Homo sapiens: one gene and its partners. The protein of the gene in region 3 purifies or fractionates together with the protein of the main gene of each other region. This does not show direct contact. Each region holds a gene or a part of one and is shown on either strand. Other genes may lie near its edges.

The links.
Region 1: the proteins of NDUFAF1 (region 3) and TIMMDC1 purify together in Homo sapiens (affinity purification with mass spectrometry; 4 studies listed by BioGRID and IntAct, with this or other methods). This does not show direct contact.
Region 2: the proteins of NDUFAF1 (region 3) and NDUFS1 purify together in Homo sapiens (affinity purification with mass spectrometry; one study listed by BioGRID and IntAct). This does not show direct contact.

What each region holds. Positions count from the first base shown.
Region 1 is NC_000003.12:119,505,015-119,508,667, reverse strand, and holds part of TIMMDC1 (complex I assembly factor TIMMDC1, mitochondrial isoform 1 precursor), read right to left. Parts: intron 1-3,653.
Region 2 is NC_000002.12:206,124,896-206,128,548, forward strand, and holds part of NDUFS1 (NADH-ubiquinone oxidoreductase 75 kDa subunit, mitochondrial isoform 1 precursor), read right to left. Parts: intron 3,078-3,653; coding exon 2,902-3,077; intron 1,950-2,901; coding exon 1,815-1,949; intron 1,717-1,814; coding exon 1,644-1,716; intron 1-1,643.
Region 3 is NC_000015.10:41,395,899-41,399,551, forward strand, and holds part of NDUFAF1 (complex I intermediate-associated protein 30, mitochondrial precursor), read right to left. Parts: intron 1,243-3,653; 5' UTR 1,162-1,242; coding exon 589-1,161; intron 1-588. UniProt on the Homo sapiens protein: As part of the MCIA complex, involved in the assembly of the mitochondrial complex I.

The DNA of each region.
Region 1 (3,653 bases), on a different chromosome or scaffold from region 3:
GGTGGGGCTAGAGCAAGAGCTCCCTCATGTAGGCCTGAGCTTGCATGGTTGAAACTTCCTGCTGGTGTCAACCAAGGTAGCACTTGGGCTTTCTTATCAGCTTGTCAAGATGTGGGGCAAAAAGGAAAGGGAGACTTCCAGTTTCTGGTATGGCATGTGAGAAGTTTAGAGTTTATCACTTATTCCTAACAACAAGTAAAAAGCTAAACAAATGGAAAAACTGACAACTCTTCTTAGATCCACCAAAGAAGTGAGATCATGGGTAAACTGCTGCCCTCAAAATAGGAGAGACAGACAGATAAATACAGAGAATCACACCTTATTAGAGCAGAAACCCACGAGCAGAAGCCTCCATGGAAACCAGTACCAGAGTAGGAAACCTTGACTATAAATGATAAATTGCTGGAAGTTCAGTGTAGAAAAGTCTAAGACCTAAAAACTGTAGGGGAGCCAATCATAGAGGGTCCCCACACTCCAGGAGCTCTACCAAGTTCTCCCAGTAAAGATCTGAGAAAAATCCCCTCAGGCTTCTGGCAAGGGGGAAGAAAAGTAACCATTTTGAAATATGCCAGAACATTCCGTTATTCTCACTAAGGCCTGCCCTCAAGATAAATGGTTTTGCACAGCCCAAACTATTGGGGTTTTGTCAGAGATTAACCAGCCTGGGGAATATCCAAATGCAACTGCTCTAGCCTCCCATGTGGGAGAAAGGAAATACCCATTCCAACCCACTGTAGTATCCTGTCCCACCAAAGGAGAGGAAAAAAACTGAAAAGCACTTGTGAAGTTAACAGTTCAGAAGCACAGGCTCACTAAAAGACTAAGAACCTAATCATAGGACTGCAAAACACTTTCCCTCTCCCACATCTTAATACCAAATTACTAAAGACCTATTTACCATAATTCCTTTTTTACCCAGGTACATCATGTCCAGCTATCAAGAAAAAAAATTACAAGGCATCCTAAAAGGCAAAAGCAGTTTGAAGAGACCAAGTAAAACTAAGAGAGTAAGCACCAAAACCAGACTCAGATATGGTGGGGATACTGGACTTACCATATGAAGAGATTAAAGCAACTATGACTAATACACTAAGGGCTCTAATGGATAAAGTAGATAGCATGCAAGAATAGATGGGCAATATAAGCAGAGAGATGGAAATTCGAAGAGAGAATCAAAAAGAAATGCTAGCGATAAAACAAATTTAAAAACCCACTGTAACAGAACTGAAGAATAGTAGACTGGACACAGCTGAGGAAAGAATCCCTGAGCTTGAAGACATTATCAACAGACACTTCCCAAACCGAAAGACAAAGAGAAAAAAGATGGGAACCTCCTCCACCAAAAACAAACAAACAAACAAACACAGAATAAAATATCCAAGAACTGTGAAACAATTACAAAAGGTATAAGTGTACTAGAACACCAGAAGGAGAAGAGAAAGCTAAAGAAATCTTTGAAACAATCACTGAGAATTTATCCTAAATTAAGTCAGACAACAAACCACAGATCCAGAAAGTTCAGAAAACACCAAGCACAGTAAATGTTCCTCAAAATTACACCTGGGCATATCATTTTCAAACTGCAGAAAATCAAAGATAAAGAAAAAAACAGTGAAGTATGTGAACACAAGGGAAAGACAGCTAAATAGAACTAAACATGGCTAGGGAGAAAATGGCTAGGGAGAACTCTCTAGGGAAGCTGAGGCTGACAAATGATCTGGACTTTGAAAGGTAAGGTTAAGTAGGAGCCGAACAAAATTAATTGTGGTAGTGGGAAAGTGCATTCAAGAAGAGGGACTGATTCACAAAAGGAAAGAACATGTTGGGAAATCCGAGGAGATTGTAAAGTGAAAGCAAAAGAGTGGCGCATGGAAGCCAGATCAAGAATTGACATTAAAGTGACAGGAAACTATAGAAGAATTTCAAACAGAAAAGTGGCAAAATCATATTCATATTTCAAAAATGTAACTAGGTTACAGGTAGAGCACATCAAGATTAGAAACAGGGACGATAAGATAGTAGCAGTGGGAAAAAAGAAGTGAAAGAATCCATATATATTTAATGAGTATAATTAATAGGACAAGAAGTGGAAAGAGAAAAAAGAGCAGAACCATATCATTCCTTGGTTTCTAGTTTTTTTTTTTTTTTTGAGACAGGGTCTCGCTCTGTCGCCCAGGCTGGAATGAGGTGGCATGATCACACCTCACTGTAGCCTCGACCTCCTGGGCTCATGCCATCCTCCCACCTCAGCCTCCTGAGTAGCTGAGCCTACAGGCATGAATCACCATGCCCAGATAACTTTTTGCACACACACGGTCTTGCCATGTTTGTTGCCCAGGCTGTTCTCAAACTCCTATACTCAAGCGATCTGCCCACCTTGGCCTCCCAAAGTGCTGGTTACAGGCGTGAGCCACTGTGCCTGGCCTGGTTTTCACATTTAACAATTGACAGAGAACGTAACAGCAGGAGCAAGTAAGGAAGTAAAAGTGGGTAGACAAGACCCATGTAAAAATGCTTGCAAATTTAAAAATGAAACAATCTGGCTGCTCTAACGCTATTAATGCCTATTTCTAGTTTTGTATTTTAAAAAGTTTTCATTAAAATGTTGTTTGAGGATCAGGAAAAACAACTAAGATACTAGGCTTAATACTTGGGTGATGAAAGAATCTGTATAGCAAATCTCCATGACACGCGTTTACCTAAGTAACAAACTTACACATCCTGTACATGTACCCCTGAAGTTAAAAGTTAAAAAAAAAAGTTCAAATTGTGTGTTTTCCCATGTGTGTACACATATACACAGAGAAGAGGGAGAGTGCATGCAGTAGCAAGAAGATAAAGCAAGTTGTCTGACTTAATTTCGGATAAATTCTCAGCATGAATTGTTAACAATGGCTAAGTCTCTGTATGTGAAGGATAGAGACTGCCCTTTGTATTATTTTTATTTTGCAATCTTTTGTAAGCTTATTCCCAAAAAAACATTTAAAAACTGTTATGTTCAGGCCGGGCGTGGTAGCTTACGCCTGTAATCCCAGCACTCTGAGAGGCCGAGATGGGCGGATCACCTGAGGTCGGGAGTTCGAGACCAGCCTGACCAACATGGAGAAACCCCTTCTCTGCTAAAAATACAAAAAATTAGCTGGGAATGGTGGCGCATGCCTGTAATCCCAGCTACTAGGGAGGCTGAGGCAGGAGAGAATCCCTTGAACCTGGGAGGCGGAGGTTGTGGTGAGCTGAGATCGCGCCATTGTACTCCAGCCTGGGCAACAAGAGCAAAACTCCATCTCAAAAAAAAAAACAAAAACAAACTTATGTTCAGAATACATATGTGTGTTGTACATAAAAGAATGTACACAAGTTAGTGATTGAGTGTATATAGCAGTTAACTTACCTTTCTGAAACGAATGCTCATTTTAAAATTATTTTTTAAATCTGACAAGTAAAAATTGTACACATATGGTGTATAACATGTTTTGCAGTATGTATATATTGGGGAATGGCTAAATTAAGCTAATTAACCTACACGTTACTTCACATACTATTTTTTGTGGTGAGAACACTTAAAATCTACTTTTTTTTTTTTTTTTTGAGACAAGAGTTTCACTCTTGTTGCCCAGGTTGGAGTGCAATGGCGTGAACTCAGCTCACTGCAA
Region 2 (3,653 bases), on a different chromosome or scaffold from region 3:
AAAGGTTACAAAACAGCATATGTACTAAAATACATTGAATTGTCCACTTCATGAGTAAATTTTAGGGTACATGAATTATATTTCAATAAAGCTATCAACCCCCAAGTGAATAATCTCACTTTTTTTTTTTTAAAGAGACCAGATCTGACTATGTTGCCCAGGCTGGTCTGAAACTCCTGGATTCAAGCCATCTGCCCCCCTCAGCCTCCCAAAATGCTGGAATTACAGGCATGAGCCACTGCACCAGGCCTAATCTCACCTTCTGTTTCACTAAAAAATATATAGGCCAGGGGTGGTGGCTCACATCTGTAGTCCCAGCACTTTGGGAGGCTGAGGTGGGTGGACTGCTTGAGTCCAGGAGTTTGAGATCTGCCTGGGTAACATGGCGAAACCCCATCTCTACAAAAAATACAAAAATTAGCTGGATGTGGTGGTATGCGCCTATAGTCCTAGCTACCGAGGAGGCTGAGGTGGGAGGATCACTTCAGCTCAGGAGGCAGAGGTTGCAGCAAGCCAAGATTGTGCCACTGCACTTCAGCCTGGGTGACAGAGTAAAATCTCATCTCAAAAATTATACACACACACACACACACACACGTACATGTAAACAGTAATAATTACATATAAATAACAATAGTTAATTAATATAATATATATGTGTATAATGCATATGTATGTCCCTGGAGGAAGAGTGACTAAAATGTTAAAAATAATTATAGTTATTTCTTGATAGTGGGAGGGTAGTGATTTTTCTTTTTTTAAAAAAAAAAAAACTTTTAGGTTCAGGGGTACATGTGAAGGCTTTTTACACCAGTAAACTCATGTCACAGGGATTTGTTGTACAGAATACTTCATCACCGAGGAATTAAGCCCAGTACCCAAGACTTATCTTTTCTGCACCTCTCCCTCCTCCCACTCTCCACTCTCAAGTAGACTACAGTGTCTGTTGTTTCCTTCTTTGTGTTCATAAGTTCGCAGATAAATACCATAGAAGTGATTTTTTGTTGTGCTTTTGAGCATAGGTATTATTTTACAATGAAGGTAATCTTTATTATCTAACTAAAATACTTATTTAAAAAATCTTAGATACAAACTATATAAAAAAATTAAGAGTTCTATGTGCTTTTAGATAGAAAATTAGTCAAAATAATCTATCAACTATTAACTACCTCATAACCTAGATGTTGTATCAACTGTTCTAAGAATCTGCAATAAACAAGTTTCAGTTTGTCTGCATTCCTTAAAAACATTCCTAACAATTTACATCAGAAGCACTGTTTAACATGTTTCACATTTAAATGTTTTGATTCTTCCACCTATAATTCTCAGAAAAACCTGCAGTTATTTGCCACTTTGGAAAATTCACCATAAATTGCTACACAGTGACTTTCCTTACAACAGCAAAATTTTATATTTAAAATCTATTAATTGCTTGGATTTTCAAACTTTGCTTACATTTCAGAAACAAAAAAACTAGAGTAGAATCAGAAAATATGCTTACGTTAGTTCCAATGTTTGAAAACCTTCAAAGATTAAGAATTGCAAACACTATCAATCACAAATTGGAATTATAACACCAAATGAGGTGATCTGATTACTTCTTACCTTTCGTATTTGGCAGAGTCATGTTGACAATTACATACCTGTCATGTAGAAGTCTTTTATAGTTAGCTGAGGTGGAACAAGTGGGTCAGCAAGAAGCTGCTGGTTCACTAGCTGCACAAAAAAGAAGAGATCAACAATAATATGGAAAACTAGTACTGTTACACCAGTAGATACAACATTATGAAAACTGCTCATAGGCGAGCTGTTACCTTTGAGAGCTCATTTGCTTGCTGGAAGTAATTAGCCCCTTCAATATCATCATATCGAACAAGATTAGGAGAGACTTCTTCCAATCTGTTCCTTACTTGATCCAGAGTATCATATGGAAGAGTCATTCCAGCAATCTACAACATGTCAGGTCCCCAAAAACAACAAAAAGCTTTAATACTTAAAAATATCAAATAATAGATAATTGTAACTATGGTGAAATAATGCAGCACTACTGAAAAACCTATTGGTGTCCATTAGTAGACATACATTTATGAAGGAAGCAGTTAAGCAGGGAACACAAATATCAAAAATTCTAATTCATTCACAGCTGTCAGTACATTAGTGACTCTATGAAATGAAGAGACAATACTATGCTAAATCCAAATGTTTTTGCTAACCTGTTATTAAAATACATAAAGTTTACAATGTGTTATTATTTTAAAAGTCAGGATGCTTACTTTTACATCAATAAAGAGCTAACAGATGTATTTTCAGGCAAAAGACAAGTCAACAATTTTCAACAATAAAAGCACCAATTTCAGGCCAGGTGCAGTGGCTCACACCTGTAATCCCAGCACTTCGGGAGACCGAGGTGGGAGGACTGCTTGAGGCCCAGGAGTTCAAGACCAGCCTGGCCAACATGGCGAAACCCCATCTCTACTAAAAATATAAAAATTAGCCAGGCTTGGTGGTACATGCGTGTAATCCCAGTTACTCAGGAAGCTTGCGCCCGGGAGGTGGAGGTTGCAGTAAGCTGAGATCACGCCACTGCACTCCAGCCTGGGCAACAGAGAAAAACTCTGTCTCAAAAATAAATAAAATAAAATAAAAGCACCAATTTCAAGTTCCTTTATTTTTTAAGAGACAGGGTCTTGCTCTGTCCCTCAGGCTGGAGTGCAGCGGTGCAATGAGAGCTCACTGTAACCTTGAATTCCTGTTTCTGAATACATGTTTTCTATAGAAATTATTCAAATCATCTCTGCATTTCAGACTGGCATCTTCCTTGACTTTGAAAATCATTCTAACAGGCTAAAATATCAAATATGCCTTTAGTAGCATCACTAAGAAATGACTCAGAAATTATACCTCAGAGAGTGCTCTTATAATTTTCCAGTCTTCTCTTGCCAAGCCAGGAGGTGTCACTGCTACCTTAGTCTGCTGAGCTCTACCCTCAGTGTTGACATATGTAGCAGACTTCTCTGTGTAAGCAGCTCCTGGGAGAATAACATCAGCTATGGGAGCCCCAACATCACCATGATGTCCTGCACAAAGATGGAAAATGGTAAACCAAAATTTTATTAAAAACTGATTTTCTACTGTACATGAAGATAGTATATATCATTTTAAATCCCATTTTGTAAAGTCACAAAAGTTTTTAAAACTAAAATGAAACAGTAGTGAAGTAATAAAAATTAAAGCCCACCTCAACCCTAATTCAACTCCCTTCCCAAAGAAAATTATTATTATTTTTTTGAGATGGAGTCTCGCTCTGTCGCCCAGGCTGGAGTGCAGTGGTGCAATCTTGGCTCACAGCAAGCTCTGCCTCCTGGGTTCATGCCATTCTTCTGTCTCAGCCTCCCAAGTAGCTGGGACTACAGGTGCCTGCCACCACACTCAGCTAATTTTTTGTATTTTTAGTAGAGACAGGGTTTCACCGTGTTTAGCCAGGATGGTCTTGATCTCCTGACCTTGTGATCCACCCGCCTCAGCCTCCCAAAGTGCTGGGATTACAGGCATGAGCCACCGCGCCCGGCCCCAAAGAAAATTATTGTTAAAGCATTTGGGGGCCAGGTGTGGTGGCTCATGCCTGTGATCCCAGCACTTTGGGAGGCCAAGGT
Region 3 (3,653 bases):
CCAACATGGTGAAACCCTGTCTCTACTAAAAATACAAAAATTAGCTGGGCGTGGTGGTGTGCACCAGTAGTCCCAGCTACTCAGGAGGCTGAGGCAGGAGAATCGCTTGAACCTGGAGGGCGGAAGTTGCAGTGAGCCGAGATCACGCCACTGCACTCTAGCCTGGGCGACAGAGCAAGACTCCGTTTCAAAAAAAAAAAAAGAAAGCCACAGGCTAACCCTACATCCACTCTACAAAACCCCTGGTCATTACAGAGGTTGTGGTCTTTTTTAGAGGAGATGAAAATCTCTCCAAAAATCTTTCAAATGTCTAACCTCTCAGGATTCCTGAAACATAACAATGCTCGTTCCTGGCCCAAAGCAATGCGCAGAAACAAGTTAACTCCTCCTCCTCAGAAACCACTTCCCCCTTGTGCTTCCACTTCACACTTGTGCCAATAGTTACTTATCCCCAGACACAGGTGAGGTGCCAAATATAACATGCCAGGTGTTTTCATTTACAGAAACAAAAGCTATCTTCTATAGTTTATGCTACAATGAAGTTCACCCCTGTTTACTAGAAAACGATGGCTCCTGGGCCTCACCTACCCTTGGAATCCTGGATATCATTGCACAGTACCCACTTCGGGTAGACTCCCCGTCCTGAGGCGCCTCAGAGCTCAGAGTTCCATATAGCAGTGCACTTTGGTTATTCTTGCCCATTTTCAAAAACACTTCACTTCTGCCTCCAATCGTCTTATCAGAAGTCACTGTCCACTTATCCAAATCTTCTTTCCCCCGGAATTGCCAGACAACCTTGGCTTGTTCCAGCAAGACCTCATGCAGAGGGTGGCCTTCCGGTCCTCTCCAATGATCCACAATTTCATCCTTCAAAAGCCTAAAATGGTATATTGCTTCATCTCTAATTGCTTTATCGAAACTAACATCAGGCTTCTCCTCAGAAGAAGTTATATCCAAAGCAACTTCTTTCTGGTGATCTCCTTGCAAATCCCCTTCAGTCTTCCTCTGTGAGGAGGCTTTGCCAGGAGAAGCCACTGGTTTCTGAAGACTACTGGAATACTCTGCAAAGCGAATACCCAAAAATGGATACAAGGCAGAAGTTGGCTTAGAGAATTTTCTGAGAAAATAAGTACCACGCAGCAATTTGTGAACCAAAGCCATGGTACAAAAAAATCAAAATGTAAGTTTCTTCCTGGGCTAGCAAGGGCCACCAAGAAGCTTCAGCAAATAGCCCAATTCTACCTATAACAGAAGAGACATTGAAGAATTATCAGCATAGCAATGAATGCATCACAATTTCAAATTCAACAGAAATCAGGTATTTTGAAGTTTGTTAACTTATTTGTTTACTATTATTATTATTATTATTTGAGACAAGGTCTTGCTCTGTGGCCCAGGCTGGGTACAGTGGCACAATCACAGCTCACTGTAGCCTCTACTTTCTGGGCTCAAATGATCCTCCCATCTCAGCCACCCAAGTAGCTGGGATTACAAGCACACACCACCATGCCCAGCTAATTTTTAAATTTTTTGTAGAAATGGATCTCCCTGGCCAGGCACGGTCCCAGCACTTTGGGAGGCTGAGGTGGGTGGATCACGAGGTCAAGAGATAGAGACTGGGCCGGGCGCGGTGGCTGACGCCTGTAATCCCAGCACTTGGGGAGGCCGAGGCGGGTGGATCACGAGGTCAGGAAATCGAGACCATCCTGGCTAACACGGTGAAACCCCGTCTCTACTAAAAATACAAAAAATTAGCCGGGTGTGGTGGCGGGCGCCTGTAGTCCCAGCTACTGGGGAGGCTGAAGCAGGAGAATAGCGTCAACCCAGGAGGCAGAGCTTGCAGTGAGCGGAGATCCCGCCACTACACTCCAGCCTGGGCGACAGAGCGAGACTCTGTCTCGGGAAAAAAAAAAAAAAAAAAATTGAGACCATCCTGGCCAACATGGTGAAACCCCGTCTCTACTAAAAATACAAAACTTAGCTGGGTGTGGTGGTGCGCACTTGTGGTCCCAGCTACTAAGGAGGCTGAGGCAAAAGAATTCCTTGAACCTGGGAGGAGGAGGCTGCAGTGAGCCAAGATCGTGCCACTGCACTCCAGCCTGGCAACAGAGCGAGACTCTGTCTCAAAAAAAAAAAAAAAAAAAAACAGAAAGAAAGAAAAAGAAATAGATCTCCCTGTGTTGCCCATGATGGTTTTGAACTCCTAGGATCCAGTGATTCTCCCCTCGGCTTCCCAAAGTGCTGGGCTGTAGGAATGATGCACTGTCCCCGGCCTTTTTTTTTTCTTTTCTTTTTATAAGAGACTGGGTCAGGCCAGGTGTGGTAGCTCACGCCTGTAATCTCAACACTTTGGGAGGCCGAGGCGGATGGATCACCTGAGGTAAGGAGTTCGAGACCAGCCTTGACAACATGGTGAAACCCCATCTCTACTAAAAATAATCCAGGCGTGGTGGCAGACGCCTGTAATCCCAGCTACTAGGGAGCCTTAAGCAGGAGAATCACTTGAACCCAGGAGGCAGGGATTGCAGTGAGCCGAGATCACGCCACTGCACTCCAGCCTGGACAAGAGCAAAATTCCATGTGAAAAAAAAAAAAAAAGAGACAGGGTCTCTTGCTCTGTCACCCAGGCTGCAGCGCCGTGGCAAGATCGATAACTCATTGTAGCCTTGAACTCCTGGGCCCTGGACTGAAATGATTCTCCCACCTCAGCCTCCAAGGTAGCTGAGACTACAGGTGCACACCACCATGCCCAGCTAATTTTTTTAAAAAATGTTGGCCGGGTGCCGTGCATCACACCTGTAATCCCAGCACTTTGGGAGTCCAAGGTGGACGGATCACTTGAGGTCAGGAGTTCAAGACCAGCCTGGCCAAAATGGTAAAACCCCATCTCTACTAAAAATACAGAAATTAGTTGGTCATGTTGGAGAGCGCCTGTAATCCCAGCTACTGGGGAGGCTGAGGCAGGAGAATCACTTGAACCCAGGAGGCGGAGGTTGCAAGTGAGCCGAGATTGCACCACTGCACTCCAGCCTGGGTGACAAAAGTGAAATTCCATCTCAAAAAAAATAAAAAAACCAAAAATTGTAGCCCGCCACAGTGGCTCACACCTGTAATCCCAGCACTCTGGGAGTCTTAGGCAGGCAAATGACTTGTCGTCAGGAGTTGGAGACCAGCCTGCCCAACATGGTAAAACCCCGTCTCCATTAAAAATACAAAAATTGGCCTGGCACGGTGGCTCATGCCTGTAATCCCAACACTTCGGGAGGCCAGGGCAGGCGGATCACCTAGGACAGGAGTTCAAGACCAGCCTAACCAACATGGTGAAACCCCTACAGAAAATACAAACAATTAGCCAGGTGTGGTGGCCCATGCCTGTAATCCCAGCTACTTGGGAGGCCTAGGCATAAGAATCGCTTGAACCCAGGAGGCAGACGTTGCAGTGAGCCGAGATCGTGCCATTGCACTCCAGCCTGGGCGACAGAGTGACTCCAACTAAAAAAAAAAAAAAATTAGCTGGGCATGGTGGTGGGCACCTGTAATCCCAGCTACTCGGGAGGCTGAGGCAGGAGAATCGCTTGAACCTGGGAGGCAGAGGCTGCAATGAGCCAAGACTGCACCATCGCACTCCAGCCTGGGCAACAAAAGTGAAACTC